Regions from separate parts of the Homo sapiens genome. Here region 1 is linked to region 2. The links come from fine-mapping of genetic effects on gene expression. Tissue or cell type: tibial nerve. Region 2 holds a variant in brackets; the other region holds the start of a gene. All regions are shown on one strand. Distances are from middle to middle.

Evidence for each region. PIP is the estimated chance that this variant, and not a neighbour inherited with it, causes the effect.
Region 1: it holds the start of HCN3, and the variant in region 2 is fine-mapped to the expression of HCN3 in tibial nerve (GTEx, PIP above 0.99).

The regions. Positions count from the first base shown.
Region 1 is chr1:155,272,639-155,280,638 of GRCh38, reverse strand. It overlaps HCN3 (hyperpolarization activated cyclic nucleotide gated potassium channel 3), which reads right to left and starts at 3,176. Exons shown (of 8, transcript NM_020897.3): 1 at 2,771-3,176. The coding sequence starts at 3,048. CLK2 (CDC like kinase 2) reads left to right here and starts at 7,135. Exons shown (of 13, transcript NM_001294338.2): 1 at 7,135-7,438. RefSeq lists an enhancer at 6,042-6,542.
Region 2 is chr1:155,301,794-155,310,125 of GRCh38, reverse strand. It overlaps FDPS (farnesyl diphosphate synthase), which reads right to left and starts at 1,260. Exons shown (of 11, transcript NM_002004.4): 1 at 1,161-1,260; 2 at 161-337; 3 at 1-83. The coding sequence starts at 336. It also overlaps a transcript of PKLR not described here. RefSeq lists enhancers at 901-1,070, 1,401-1,530, 2,433-2,502, 3,627-4,126. The variant G/A (reference allele first, on the strand shown) is at 4,190.

The DNA.
Region 1 (8,000 bases), 29 kb after region 2:
GTGAAACCCCATCTCTACTAAAAAAATACAAAAAATTAGCTGGGCATGGTGGCGGGCGCCCGTAGTCCCAGCTACTCAGGAGGCTGAGGAAGGAGAATGGCGTGAACCCGGGAGGCGGAGCTTGCAGTGAGCCGAGATTGTGCCACTGCACTCCAGCCTGGGCGACAGAGCGAGACTCCGTCTCAAAAAAAAAAAAAAAAAATTAGCCAGGTGTGGTGGCGCGCACCTGTAATCCCAATCCCAGATATTCAGGAGGCCAAGGCAGGAGAATTGCTTGAACCTGGGAGTGAAGGTTGCCGTGAGCTGAAACCGCTCCACTGCCCTCTAGCCTGGGCGAGAGTGAGACTCTGTCTCAAAATAAATAAATAAATAAAATAAATAAATAAATAAAAATTTGCCGGTGTGGTGGCTCACACCTGTAATCCCAGCACTTTGGGAGGCTGAGGTGGGTGGATCACGAGGTCAAGTGTTCGAGACCAGCCTGGACAAAATGGTGAAACCCCACGTCTACTAAAAATACAAAAATTAGCCAGGCGTGGTGGCATGCGCTTGTAATCTCAGCTACTCAGGAGGCTGATGCAGAAGAATCGCTTGAACCCGGGAGGCGGAGGTTGCAGTGAGCCAAAATTGTGCCATTGCACTCCAGCCTGGGCGACACAGTGAGACTCCTTCTCAAAATAAATAAACAAATATAAAAATAAATAAATAAATAAATAAAATTACTCTTCCATCTACATACATATCCCTACTATATATCATTTACCTCACCATTGCTAAATATTTTTAAGGTTAAAAAAAAAAGCTAAAGTATCCTGTGCTAATCTCACAGCATTGCTGAAAACATTTACATGGAGACAATAGATGTGACAGTGTGGTACAGGCACTAGTTGGTATTATGACTCACTCACTCTTTATCCCCAGATTTCTGAAAAGGCTGCTGCTTCCCCCATCTCCAGTTATCTGCCCATTCTAGTCTAGGACCTCATGCCCTCCCCAGCCTTCTCCACCCCATTCCTCTTCTCCAACACAGTTGGACCCACGGATCCTGTTCCTCTGCTGAGGTTTGCTCATCCATGTCTCAGGGTGGGGTGGTCTATCCTGCCTTCCTCTGAATTGAGCTTTCCAGGGATGCCCTTCCCCCTCCACAGAACCTCAAACAGGGCTGCACACACAGAGAAGCTCCACAGGAGATCATGAAGCAGCAAGGCTTGAGTTCTGCATACCTTTCCTCCTCTGGCCTCCCTGTGTCCACTGGGACTCTGGCTGAGCACAGGCAGAGGCATGGGCAGGGGTGAGTGACATTGCTGTGGCAGACACCGTGGAAAGAAGAGGTCAAGAGGGAACTGTGTGAAGCCCTCATTCAGAGAATGGCACAGGAAAATCTCAGGGACTCAGTTACCTATGGTGGTTTTAATTCTAGGACACACCTAATCCCAGTGTCAACTCAGGAGCTAGCCCCTTCTGACTCGGACTGCAAAATCAATTTTCAGCCCTGAAAGAAACTTCCTCAAGTCCGGGCCTCTGGGAAGCCCCTTAGACTGTATGTTTTCAATAAACAAAAACCCTCGGCCATTCTTCTTTTCTCTCCTCGGCTGCTGAGGAGGAATCCTGTATTGTGAGACACTAAGAGAGGGGAGGGAAAGAGGGTTCGCCTAGCCATGAAAGCATCTTCACAGCCTGACTCACAGGTGGGTCACAAGCCTGGCGGGTGATGTAGTATAGAGAATGGAGAAGCACAATCAGAGGGATACCAGGCTTCTGGGGATCCGTCTGCGAGTGAACTGAGGGAAGAGAGTGAGATCCACAGGAGACTAGAAAAGGCGCACTGGCTGGGTGGGAACGAGGCAGCAAAGACAGGAGTGAAAGGAACAATGGGAGGAAGAGAGACATAGAGGGAGTGTGTATATATGTGGATTCAAGATAATGTCTGGGTCTACAACTGTATTTCGAGGCTCCAGATTCACACCTCTTCCTCTCTGCTTCTTTAGTTCCCCAGGTTAGGTGCTTTGCACACATCCCTGCCTCATCCAAGAGCTGTCCTTCATTTCCCCCAAGGACAGGGCTGCTGTCTTCCCCTAGCGACCTTGATGTAGAGGTACACCCTGACGGAGACTGTGAAATGGCCCCACCCCCACCCTCTGTTCCTTCTCTGGGAGTCACCTGGGTGGTGGTCCTGCCCCTGCTTTGCCGCCTCAGTCACTCTGAGTCTCGGCCCCGCCCCGCCGCCCCCGCCTTCAGCACTAGGGACAGCGACCAGAGCTGAGGTCTGGACCCCCCGCCCCCTTCAGCGTCCCTATTTTTCCTGGTAGTCTGTCATGCTGAACTAGGCAGGTGCTAAGGAGCGGGTGTGGGGATGGGAGATGGCGGAGCTCGGCTTCTCCCTCAGACTGGCCCCGATACTTAGAATATAATTTCCTAGATCTCCAGCAAGCAGGACTGGAGGAGGCAGGGGTCCCAAACTCTGGTAGTTCCTTTGGTCCGGATGGGGTCCCGGGTTCCTGAAAGAGGAAATCCAGGTCTCTGGAGATCCCCTGATGTCTGCTTGCCCCTTCTGGTGCCCCCAGCCTGTCCAGGCACGGAGGACCTCCGGCAGGGGATACCCGCCCAGGAATTCCCAGGCTAGACTGGTGCAAGTGACTCTCCCGCCCCACCAAGGGACCCCGGGCTGGAAATGAAGTGACCGTGGAGGGTGGGGCGGGCCGGGTCCCGGTGTCGCTGCCCGCGAGGGTGGGATTGATGTACCCTGCCCTCCCCGCCAAGCCCCCAATACCGGAAGTCGCTGTAGGGGTGGATGATCCAGGCCCCCGCTGACTTCACCCGCTCCTGCTCGATTTCCACTGCTTTGTGGCTGCCGAACACCCGAAGGGAGAACTTGTTGACCGTAGGCTGGAGCAGCGTCCCAAGGTGCCTCCTCTTAGGCTCAGGCCCAGATTTGGGGATCGGACCTGAGGCCGCGGTCGCAGGCGGGGGAGCAACGGGAGGCACCGCCTCCAGTCCAGGGGTCGCCCCTTCGCTGGCCCCCGCCGCCGGCCGCTGCTCTGCCTCCATGGCGCCCACCCCGCTTACACGCTCGGCCTCCTAGAGCCCTCTGTGGCCATCAGGTACCCGCAACCCCTCCAGAGCAGGAGTCGGCGCAGCCCCGCGGGCTCTAGCGGAGGCGTCGTAGGCTCGGAATCGCCGGCGCGCGGGGCGGAGGGGGTGTGTGCTAGACTGGCGGGCGGCGGGCGGGCTGCGCGGCGCCCCCTGGCGAGGGCCGCGCCAAGACCGGGCGGGGCTGGGACGCCGGGATCCTGGAGGAACTCCGAGAGGGGCGTGGCTTAGCAAAGAAGGCGGGGAGCGCAGCCTGAGCCAGGGAGAGGGCGTGGCCTAGCGTTGGCCTTTCATCCACTGAGAACCAGGGAGGAGGAGCCCCCTGCAGTGGCGGGAAAATCGGACGCGGGTTTGTAGCTTGAAGGACTTGGGAGGGAGAGGGATTGGGGACCAATGGAAGAAGTGGAAATGGCTTTTGGGATTCTTCTCCACTCTCGCCCAGGGACTTCTGTCCTGCTCCCGTCTTCTCTCAACACTGTCCTAGGCATATTCTTGTCTTTTGGTCTCCTCCGAACTGCTTCCCCTAGTATTTAATTTCCTAATTCATTCTGTCAGCCTTCACCAAGTGCAACTCTGCCTGTCATTGAGTGGATGCTGAGGAAACAAAAATGAATACAAAAGTCCTAGTCTTAGCATCTCCATGTAGTAATGGAAAACAACACAAAACAAAACAAAAACAAAGGCCTAGCCATAAAGCCACTGCTCATCTGTGCCCAACGACAGACAGGTAAATTGCAGTGCTATGCGAAGTGCTACAAATTCCTAAATATCTCAAATTCTCCCCTTCATCTCCAATTCTTATTACCACTGCCTCATTTCAAGCCCTCAGCATTTTTTCACTTAAATTACTTCGGAAACCTCTAAAAGAGTCTTCAACCTCTTCCAGGCCAATTCTTCTTCCATTCCCTGCCAGTTACCTTCCTAAAATCCAACTATGGCTGTGTCACTTGCTTGAAGCCCATCAAGCTTTCCCATCTTCTACAGGGGTACATTTAAGCTGCTTAGCATGGTGTACCAGGCCCAAAAAATTTGGACCTAGTTTCAACAGTCTCTCTTCTGACAGTCCCTCTCTTGAAAGCCACAGCCCCAATCATGCTGAAAGACTTTGTGCTGCCTTGTCTCTATGCTTTTGCAAATATTTTCTCTGCCTGGTATTCTCCTCCAATTCACTTTCGAACAGTTGGTTCAGATCTTGCTTTCTCTAGGAAACCTAGGAACACATTTCCAACTCTCCTTTCCTCAGGTAGGGTCTATTCTAGAGCTTTTTTACAGCAGCCAGGGCACCACTGTTTTGAGCAACTCATGTCACAGGGCTACCATTATTATTATTATTTTAGAGATGAGGTCACACTATGTTGCCCAGGCTGGTTTTGAACTCAGAGCTCAAGTGATCTTCCTGCCTTGGCTTCCCAAAGTGCTAGGATTACAGGCATGAGCATGGTCTCATTATTTATTTACAGATTTTCTCTCCTGTTAGATTGTGAAACTCTGAGAAACAGGAACCTTGCACCTGGCATAATTCTGGACACATAGTGGACATTCAGTAAATGCTTGTTGAATGAATTAATAATCTAGGAAAATGTTCCAGGAGGTGGAAGTGAAATCTTTACTTCTCTCTCCCCGACTCCTTCATTGATTGCTCTCCATGTTCTATTCCAGGGAACTTCTCTAAACTATGTCTGGTTATCTGATCTAACCTCCATCTGACCATCCTTCATCCAGCTCCTCTCTAATATTTCCTGACTTTATTTATTTACTCATTCTAGAGTCAGGGTCTTGCTCTGTTGCTCAAGCTGGAGTGCAGTGGTGTGATCATGACCCACTGCAGCCTCAAAGCAATCTTCCCACCTCAGTTTCCTGAGTAGCTGGGACTACAGGTGTGAGCCACCTTGCTCAGCTCCCTGACTTTAATATCGTTATTCTCAGATTATATTATTTCTCTTTCAATTGACCTTTCTGACCACTTCTCAATTCCTTCTGTAAAGTCTCTAACTCTTTCTCTTTCTCATTTTCTTTTTTTCTTTTCTTTTCTTTTTTTTTTTTTTTTTTTTTTGAGATAGAGTCTCACTCTGTCGCCCAAGCTGGAGTGCAGTGGCACGATCACGGGTCACTACAGCCTCAACCTCCCCAGGCTCAGGTGATCCTCCCACCTCAGCCTCCCGAGTAGCTGGGACTACAGGTGGGAGACACCATGAATGGCTAATTTTTATTTTTTATTTTATTTTATTTTAGACACAGTCTCACTCTGTCGCCCAGGCTGGAGTGCAATGGCACCATCTCGGCTCACTGCAACCTCCACCTTCTGGATTCAAGCGATTCTCGTGCCTCAGCCTTCCAAATAGCTGGGATTACAGGCACCTGCCATCACACCCGGCTAATTTTTGTATTTTTAGTAGAGACAGGGTTTCACCAGGTTGGCCAGGCTGGTCTCGAACTCCTGTGCTCAAGTGATCCACCTTCCTGGGCCTCCAAAACTGTTGGGATTACAGGCATGAGCCACCGCGCTTGGCCTAATTTTTGTATTTTTTTTTTTTTTTTTTTTTTTTTTTTTGAGACGGAGTCTCGCTGTCGCCCAGGCTGGAGTGCAGTGGCGCAATCTCGGCTCACTGCAGGCTCCGCCCCCTGGGGTTCACGCCATTCTCCTGCCTCAGCCTCCCGAGTAGCTGGGACTACAGGCGCCCGCCACCTCGCCCGGCTAATTTTTTGTATTTTTAGTAGAGACGGGGTTTCACCGTGTTAGCCAGGATGGTCTCGATCTCCTGACCTCGTGATCCGCCCGCCTTGGCCTCCCAAAGTGCTGGGATTACAGGCGTGAGCCACCGCGCCCGGCCTTGTATTTTTTTAAGAGTCTGGGTTTTGCCCTGTTGCCCAGGCTGTCTCAAACTCCTATGCTTAAGTGATCCACCCACGTTGGCCTCCCAAAGTGTTGGTATTACAGGCGTGAGCCACCTCGCCCAGCCTTCCTGTTCTTTTTTAAGATTTAGTAAACTGGCCAAGCGCCGTGGCTGATGCTTGTAATCCCAGCACTTTGGGAGGCCGATGGGGGAGGATTGCTTGAGCTCAGGGGTTCAAGACTAGCCTGGGTAACAAAGTGAGGCACTATCTCTACAAGAAAAAAAAAAATAGCTGGGCGTGGTGATGCGCGCTTTTTTTTTTTTTTTTTTTTTTTTTTGAGACAGAGTCTCGCTCTGTCACCCAGGCTGCAGTGCAATGGCCCGATCTCGGCTCACTGCAACCTCCGCCTCCCGGGTTCAAGCGATTCTCCTACCTCAGCCTCCTGAGTAGCTGGGATTACAGGCGCCCGCCACCATGCCCGGCTAATTTTTGTATTTTTAGTAGAGACGGGATTTCACCATGTTGATCAGGCTAATCTCGAACTCCTGACCTCGTGATCCGCCCGCCTCGGCTTCCCAAAGTGTTGGGATTATAGGCGAGAGCCACCGCGCCCGGCCCTAGTAAACTTGTATTTCTCACACATTATGTAAGCCACCTTAGGATACAGTTCTCAAGTAAGTCCCCCTTTTCGGCACCCGATTCTCCAACCCTCCATTGCTCAAACCTTTCCTCCATGGCTGTGTCCCCACCCCGAGTCGTGCATAACTTTTGTTGATGACAAAAGGTGGCAGACTTTTGTCCTGGGGATAGGTAGGTGAAGTGTTTTAAGAAATGGTTATTTTCAGGCTATGCAGAAGAATGAGACTTCACCATCAAGCCTCACTACAGTCAGGCTTGCAGAGCAGCGACACTGTATTGACAATGACAATCCTTTCTTTTAAACTCCAAACCTAACTAAGCCACACGTCTCCATGCAAAGGGTAAAAGATTGAAGACGGAGTGGGAAAGGACAGGAGGCGGGGCATAGCGGGCCTGGAAGGCTTCCAGCTTGTCCCTGTGGACCCTCCTCGCCCCTATGAACTTCCGCCCCCAGTACCTCCGAGGCTCTGACAGGCGGATGCCTGCCAACTACGTGAGCACGTGGTGGCGCGCGCGGTCCTGGGGGCGGAGCCCAGGGGGTAGCTGGGAAGCGACGCAGGACGTCGGTCCGTGCGTACGTGCTCGCTCACGGCGGCGGCGGCGGAGCGGAGAGGCCAGAGCCGGAGACCGAGCTGGGATCGGGCCCCGGGCGGGGGCGGTGCGAGCGGCGCCAAGCAGATCTTAGGGGCGGGGACGGAGCCGGGGCGGGCGGGACTGAAGCGGAGCCCGGGAACGGGGCGGGAGGTCCCAGGGTCCCGGGTTGGGGGGGTGGAGCAGCATTTCGTCGCCGCGGGGGTGCCGGGACTCCGGCCGCAGTGTCGCCGCCATCACGGACTTCCTGTGGGACAAGCGCACGGGCCTCGCCGCCAGAACGGTGAGCGCGCGGGTTGGCTGGCCGCGCGAAAAGATGGCGACCGCGGGGCGGGCGGGGTTAGGCTTGGGTTGGGGGCAAGGGACGGGGGCGAGATTTGGAGAGGAGGAGAGTTGAGACCTACGAAGCGACGGAGTAGGGAGATGAGGGGGAAGGAGGTCGGCCTGCGTTAGATGTACCAAGAAGACCTGTAGGAAGCTTGGGCGGAACCAGACTAGAAGGGATGATAGAGTAAGGATGGGAGTGGTTCCAGAGATGTGAAGGAGTGGAATATCAAAGTTGGACTCGGGTCCAATCAAAGCTGGAGGGGAGGAATACATCACCGTGTCACTTGGAACATGCAGGAAGAATTTGCCTGTAGGAGTTCTGGATTTTCTGAGTAAGAAAGGAAAAAGCAAAAGATTTCAAACTTGAGAAAGGTAGGCTAGTGATGTTTTGAGGGGACAGTGCTGTGAGGCCGTTTGATGGTAGTATGTGGTGAGATGGCATTTATGTGGCTATGCTGATTAGGATAACTATGCTGGGAAAATCTTGTGCTTGCAGCTTGGTATGCTACCGGCCCCAG
Region 2 (8,332 bases):
AGTGCTGAACGAAATCCTGCTTTTCTTGGGCATAAACATCTGAATTCTGGTCTCCGTTCATTCTGAGGGAGGAGCAAAGGGCTCTAAGTAGAAGAAAAACAAGTCAGAAACCTGATCAGCTGCTCCCCTCCCCAAGGCCCCTCACCCCAACCACACTCACCGAGGTTCCTCTGTCCACGCTTGGCACCAGCAGCGGGCACTGTGCCAGGCCAGGACTGGGTACCCGTGCACCAGGGAGGGCCGCCGTAGGGAACCCAGCCACCTCTCCCGGGGTGCCCAGTAGGGGGCTGGCAGCAGGAAGACCCCCACAGATCTCAACCAGCGGGACAGGGGCATCCTGGGAGTGGCATAGGGAGGGGGCACTAAGCACTCCCTGCAGGGGCAAGCACCAAAGGCAGAGGCATGGTGGCAGCTCCCCAGATAACTCCCACCCCAGCCTTAGCCCAGAGTGCCCCTCCCTCTTGTGGAATGTGCTTGGGGACAATTACAGGAAGGATACGCAGGGAACAAAAAAGTATGGCTGGGTGACTGAGACCCAACTAATCACCACTTACAATAAACAGGCTAGAACTCAGTGCCTTCAAGATGGCGTGCACAAGGCTGGGTAAGGAGGCGGTACAGAGTAAAGTACCCCAGGATTAGGGGCTGAAAGGACCCTTAAGTCATCCTATTTTACACAAGCCAAACTGAGGCTCTAGGAGGTAGGAAGATAGTAGAGGCAGAGCCAAATCTAGAACCCAGGTCTCCCCTGGGCAGTGGAGAGGGGTGCCCAGGGTCTGAGTTACGCCCCAAGGAGGAAAGAAGCATTGGAGCGAGAACCCATGGGTGCTGCATCCATATGGTCCGGGGTGCTTGAACCGCGCGTCCCAAGCCCCACAGGAATCGCTAGGACTGAGCAGATAGGCTCGGAGCAACTCTGGACGGGAGAGAAGGGCTCGCAGCAAAGGAGTAAACCGGGGTCCGGGCATATTGGGGATTCCAGGAAAGCACAAGGGCAGAGTTGGGAAGTCTCCACACCCCTAGAAGGCCAGCCAGTCTAGCCCACCGACCTTCAAAACGGACACAACAGGCTGGCCTTCCGATGCCTCACAGTATCGTTACAGAAGTAAGGCCCGGTCTCGGCCCCCTTCCTCCAAGGCCCAGCACACATCCTCTCTCACCTGTTCCCAGATACGGATTCCTGCTCGGTCCCGCTTGTTGGCGGGTACTCCTAAAAGCAGAATCCGCTCCGCGATCGGCTCTGTGGGTCGAGTAGTTCCCGCTCTCCCCACACTAAGGGCGGAAATATATAATTAGACTACAACTCCCAATGTGCCCGCGGGAGGGACAGATAACGCGATCCTGCGTGTCCTGGCTGGGCGAAGATGAGCCGCGCTGATTGGCTGCTGGCCGTCGTGTGAGCATGGCGCACTGTGGCACTGTGACGGACGACCAATGGAAGGGCTGAAGTCTAGAGGTCGCGGCTGGAGGCGTCAGTGCCGGAAGCGAGCCAGGCTGGGAACGTCCCCGCTGTGGCTTTGGCTGCCTGTCTTACTCAAGTTTTCATTATCTTCCTGGGCAGCTGATTGGCACGTTAGTAAAACGCAGCAGGACTAGCTTTCTCACTTATTAGTTCTCTAACTTTAGGCAAATCATTTAACGTCTCTGATCCTCAGTGAACTTGCTTGAAACTAGCTTTCCTCATCTGTTGAATGAGGGTGGTAATACCATGAGGTAATGTGTGCAAAGTGCTTTAAGGGCTTAAGAAAGATGAGTCTTGGGCCGGGCACGGTGGCTCACGCCTGTAATCCCAGCACTTTGGGAGGCCGAGGCGGGTGGATCATGAGGTCAGGAGTTCGAGACCAGCCTGACCAATGTGGTGAAACCCCGTCTCTACTAAAAATACAAAAAAAAAAAATTAGTCGGGCGTGGTGGCGCGCGCCTGTAATCCCAGCCACTCAGGAGGGCTGAGGCGGGAGAATCGCTTGAACTCGTAAGGCAGAGGTTGCAGTGAGCTGAGATCCAGCGAACCACTGCACTCTAGCTGGGGAGACAGAGCAAGACTCCGTCTCAAAAAAAAAAAAAAAAAAAGATGAGTCTCACACTTGTAATTCCAGCACTTTGGGCGGATCACCTGCGGTCAGGAATCTGAGACCAGCCTGGTCAACATGGCAAAACCCCTTCTCTACTAAAAATACAAAAATTACCCAGGTGTGCTGGTCCGCGCCTTAATTCCAGCTACGTGGGAGGCTGCAACCTCGCTTCCCGGGTTCAAGTGATTCTCCTGGATTACAGGTGCCTGCCAGCATGCCCAGCTAATTTTTGTGTTTTTAGTAGAGAGGGGGTTTCTCCAGATTGGCCAGCCTGGTCTCGAACTCCTGACCTCAAGTGATCCAGCCACCTCGACCTCTGAAAGTGCTGGGATTACAAGTACGAGCCACTTGGCCCAGGCAGTTATTTATTGATTATAAGCTAAACAAGGGTTGGATTATTCATGCCTCTGCTTTGTAGACCATATACAGTTAACTCCCTGATGTCGACACAGCATGTGGTAGGAGTATAGCGTTGAAGACCACCAGAGGTCACTCTTGTTGCCATCTTGGTTTTGGTAGGTTTTGGCCAGTTTCTTTACTGCAATCTGTTTTATCAGCAAGGTCTTTATGACCTGTATCTTGAGCCAATCTCCTATCTCATCCTGTGACTTAGAATGCCTAAACCAACTGGAAATGCAGTCCAGTAGGTCTCAGCCTTATTCTACCCAGTCCCTATTCAAGATGGAGTTGCTCTGGTTCACGCACCTCTGACAATTATGCTAAGTGAAATAAGCCAGACTCAAAAGGACAGATACTGTATGATTCCGTGTATATAAGGTACTGTCACCGGTGGAGGGTGTCCAGGTTCTTGGCATCTTGAACAAAGAATTGGACAAAACACGGCTGGGTGCAGTGGCTCACGCCTGTAATCCCAGAGCTTTGGGAGGCCAAGGTGGGCGGATCACGAGGTCAGGAGTTCAAGACCAGCCTGGCCAACATAGTGAAACCCCATCTCTACTAAAAAATCCAAAATTAGCCCAGCATGGTGGCGCACACCTGTAGTGCCAGCTACTCGAGAAGCTGAGGCAGGAGAATCGCTTGAACCCGGGAGGCAGAGGTTGTGGTGAACCGAGATCGCTCCGGGAGGAATGAAACAGGAGGAATGAACAACTCCAGATGCGCGGCCTTAACAGCTGTAACACTCACCGCGAAGGTCTGCAGCTTCACTCATGAGCCAGCAAGACCACGAACCCACCAGAAGGAAAAAACTCCGAACACATCTGAACATCAGAAGGAACAAACTCCGGACACACCACCTTTAAGAACTGTAACACTCACTGCGAGGGTCCGCGGCTTCATTCTTGAAGTCAGTGAGACCAAGAACCCACCAATTCCGGATACATAAATCTGCATGTGTGAGTGTGGATATTGTGTGAGTGTTAGAGTGGAGTACGTATTTGTGTGTGTGTGTGGAATGGTGGGGAGCTTTGTGTATGTTTACGTGTGTGTATGTGTCTGACCAGGGGGCACCTCGTCTGTTAAGCTGCCCTGACCTCCTTCTGCCCTCACTCACAATGCTCTGTCTCTCCTGGTGTCCCTCTGTGTGCTGAGCACAGTTCTGTCAGTGCCCCCCGACTTCCTTTATTAAACCTGACTGGCCTCGCTCCTGTCTCCATCCCCACACTGAGCAGAGACCTGGGCCCAGTGGCCTCACCTCCTCCAGTCTGGCATGCGTCGGGGCACGGCCCATATGGGGGTTCAGTCCATGCCTGTGGAATGAAAAGCCACCTGCGTTTGTGTCTGTGCATGTGTGAGTGTGGCTGTTGGAGCATGTGTGTTTGTGGCAGGAGGGAGGGCTCTCAACTGACAAAGCTGAGTGTTGTGTTTGGATGCTGGGCTTCTGTTTCTCACCCACAGGCCTCTTGCTCAGGGATGATCCTGTGACAAAGTGCAGACCATGCTTCATGTGGTCACTTGTGGACCAGGGTCAGCCAGACTGCTGAGGAAACTGGCCTGATTTCAGGTCAAAGTGTCTGTCCCTTAGCTGGACAGGACACGGGCTGCTTTGGAGAACTGCCCCCCACCTCCTGCTAATCCCTTGGGACTGGGATATCTGGGATTCCTATCCTCCCAACTGGTTCTGGAGTCAGTTCAATATTGCCAGACCACAGCTGGGC[G/A]TGGTGGCTCATGCCTGTAATTCCAGTACTTTGGGAAGTGAAGGCGGGTAGATCACTTGAGCCCAGGAGTTCTGCACCAGCCTGGACAACGTGGTGAAACTCCATCTCTACAGAAAATACCAAAAAAAAAAAAAAAAAAATTAGCTGGGCATTGTGGTGCGTGCCTGTAGTCCCGACTCCTTGGGACGTTGAGGTGGGAGGATCACCTGAGCCCAGGAGATTGAGACTGCAGTGAGCAGAGATCATGATACTGCATTCCAGCCTGGGCTACAGAGGAAGGCCCTGTATCAAAAACAAAGTAATGCCAGACCATCCTTAAAGTCCCATGTCTCTGCCAACACCACAAGCACAAGGCCTGAATCCCCAGTCCCTGAAGTCTGCCACATTCTCTGTGGGTACAAATTTTGTCTCTCTTTATTTGTTGTGTCTTCTATATACAGAAAGATGAGGCCCCATGCTCATTTCCCTCCGGAAGTCCTCTCTACTATCTCTCTCTTTCTTTTCCAACTCCAGAGTCAGAGACTTCTCCCTTTCCCACCCACTGAAACAGTCCCAAGGGGCAGGCATGGAGCTTAGTGGTTACAGCTCGGGCTCTGGAGCTCCACTATCTGGGCCTGAATCCCAGCTCCACTCCTGACAAGACTTTTTGCATCAGACAAGTGTATTCGGTAGGGTTTCTTCAGGAAATAAAGAATTCTCTTAAATGGGATAATTTGAAGGTGTTTCATAACAGGATTATACAAAGGAATGGGCAGGGTGTTGGTAAACCACAACGGATAGTGCATTACCCCAGATCTAATAACAGTGGGCTTTGTTACCCCTGTAAGGTCCAAGGGATAGGGAGAGAATGGTCCCTAGAATGGCAACTGGGGAGGTAAATGCTCAACCTCACCCTCTCCATCTCATCTCCTATGGGTGCCACTCTCCAAACCCTACAGACGCCACTGTGCAAAGCCGTCAGCCTCCTGGCCCCACAGCAGAGTGGAAAAGGAACACACCTTGCTACGGCCCAGTTCCCTCATCTGTAAAACAGCCTGTTGATCCTACCTTCTTTCTAGGTTGTCACAATGATAAAAGGAGATGGTGTCCATGAGGCATGAATGCTGTTCCAGCACACAGGAAGTGTGCTCGATGAACAGCTCCAACTGTCTGACTATGGATTTTAATGATTAACTGGCTTCTCAAATTTAGCCTGTCAAAACAGAAAGCTTGAATTTCCCCCTACTTCAAACCTATTTCTTCCGTAGTCTCAGTTAGTGGCGCTACCATCTACCCAACTGCTCAAGCCAGACTCCTCGACACTAGAAGCCGCCCTCTCCACGGCTGTTTTGCCGTTCCACTCTGCTGGCTCTTCTCCAAAATGCATCTCCAAGCCGTCCCCCTCTCTTCGTCTTCACTGCCAACATGCTAGTCCATCACCTACCACCTAGATTCTTCCTAAGCCCGCAGTAGTTCTGCCTGTACCTACCATCTGTTCTTTTTTTTTTTTTTTTTTTTTTTTTGAGACGCAGTTTTGCTCTTGTTGCCCAGGCTGGTGTGCAATGGCATGATCTCGGCTCACTGCAACCTCTGCCTCCCGGATTCAAGTGATTCTCCTGCCTCAGCCTCCCAAGTAGCTGGGATTACAGGCACGCACCACCACACCTGGCTAATTTTTTGTGTTTTTAGTAGAGACGAGGTTTTACCGTGTTAGCCAGGCTGGTCTCAAACTCCTGACCTCAGGTGATCCGCCTGCCTTGGCCTCCCAAAGTGCTGGGATTACAGACGTGAGCCACCGCTCCCGGCTACCATCTATTCTTTACCCAGCAGCGGGAGGGACCTAAACCATCAGTTGGATCATGTCCATCCCCTGGGTAAACCCACCACATTACAAGATCCTGCTCAGGTCCCCTATCTTCACTATGGGCCACGACCCTGCACTCCAGGCACTCAGCCTCATTGCAGCTCTTTGTCTCCTTGGCACCAAGCTTTTTCTTCCTCAGAGCCTTGGCATATATTATTTCTGCCCCCGCCCCGCCGCCATGGAAAACCCCTTTCTCCATTTGCCCCCACCGGTTCCTTCTCATCCTTCAAATTTCAGCTTCAAAATAATCACTTCAAAGAGGCCTTCCTCAACCATCTCATCTTGTCTAAAATATATCCTCTAGGTCAGGCATGGTGGCGTGCACCTGTAATCCCAGCTACTCAGGAAGCTGAGGCATGAGAATTGCTTGAACCCAGGAGGCAGAGGTGGCAGTGAGCTGAGATCGTGCCACTGCACTCCAGCCTAGGTGACAAGAGTGAAACTCCGCTTCCAAAAAAATAAATAAATAAAATAAAATACACCCTCTCTCTTCTCCCACTGGCTTCTGTGTTCCAGCACCCTGATCCACTACTTAGTAGCACTTGCAAGGTTTGTAGTTACATATTTATTTCTCTGATACTTGTTGATAGTCTGTCTCCCCACTATACTGTAAATCTCACAGAGGGCAAAGGCCCTGTCTGTTTTGCTCACTACTGTGTCCTTAGGGCCTGATACAGCGTAGGTGCTCGATAAAGATTGGACAGTGGGGAATGGGCAAATGGTAACTAATGAATGCTATGATGATGATGATGCTATCAAAGCCCTTCCAGAGAATCCCACCAGTTAGTATCAGCTGAACCCACAGCTAGTGTCACACCAAAAGTGGCATCAGGGCAGCACTCACAAAGGATGCCCCAAACCATCCCAAGATGGGGCTGGTTGGGATTCCAGTGAATGAAGCACTAAATGCCAGGGCAATCAGGCCAAAGCATACATTAGGGGAACTTACCTACAGAACAGCTACTGCACATCCTTGCTGTGGACAATGGGACAAAGGGTGTTCTACCCAGGTATGTTCTCAAGGAGGGGTTCGGGGTATGGTGTTTATAGGAGTGTTTAAGAAATTTGAAGCCAGTACTATGGCTCACACTTGTAATCCTGGCATTTTGGGAGACCAAGGCAGGAGGACCACTTGAGCATAGGTGTTCAAGACCAACCTGGGCAACAGAGTGACACCAGTCTCTACAAAAATAAAAAGTCAGCACCTGTGGAAAGAAAGGAAAAAAATATTTTTAATAAATAAAAATTTAAAAAGTAGCCAGGCATGGTGGTGCACACCTGTAGTACTGGCTACTTGGGAGGCTGAGGTGGGAGGATCGTTGGAGCCCAGGAAGTCAAGGCTACAGTGAGCCATGATCACACGAGTGCACTCCAGCCAGGGTGACAGAGTGAGACCCTTTAAAAAAAAAAGAAAGAAAACAAGGCTGGGCATGATGGCTCACACCTGTAATCCCACCAGTTTGAGAGGCCGAGGCTGGTGGATACTTGAGGCCAGGAGTTGGAGACCAGCCTGGACAACATGGTGAAACCCCATCTTTACTAAAAATACAAAAATTAGGCCAGGCACAGTGGCTCACACCTGTAATCCCAGCACTTTGGGAAGCTGTGGCGGGCAGATCACCTGAGGTCAGGAGTTCGAGACCAGCCTGACCAACATGGTGAAACCCCGTCTCTACTAAAAATACAAAAATTAGCCAGGCGTGGTGGTGCATGCCTGTAATCCCAGCTACTCAGGAGGCTGAGACAGGATAATCGCTTGAACCCAGGAGGCAGAAGTTGCAGTGAGCCAAGATCACGCCACTGCACTCCAACCTGGGCAACAGAGTCAGACTCAGTCTCAAAAAAAAAAAAAAAAAGAAAAGAAAAGAAAAAAGAAAAACAAAATTAGCTGGGTGTGGTGGTGCACGTCTGTAATCCCAGCTACTCGGTAGGCTGAGGCAGGAGGATCGCAGAGGTTGCAATGAACTGAGATTGCGCCACTGCACTCCAGCCTGGGCGACAGAGTGAGACTCTGTGAAAAAAAAAAGAAAAAAAAGAAAAAAGAAAAAGAAAAAAGGAAGGAAGGGAGGGAGGAAAGAAAATTTCCCTGGGGGTAGGAGTCTATAAGTTTAGCAAAATAGTCGATCTTTCAGTGTTTCCAGCAACAACCTAATCAAGTTTATCAGTGTCTGAGAATGTTCAAGGTACCATCTTGGGTTCAAACATGTAGGCGAAAACATGCAGCTGGCCAGGTTACAGAGTGGTGAAGGCACTCTGCATTTCTTGGTTGAGACAGAGAAAAAAAGTGGTCAGAACTGGGT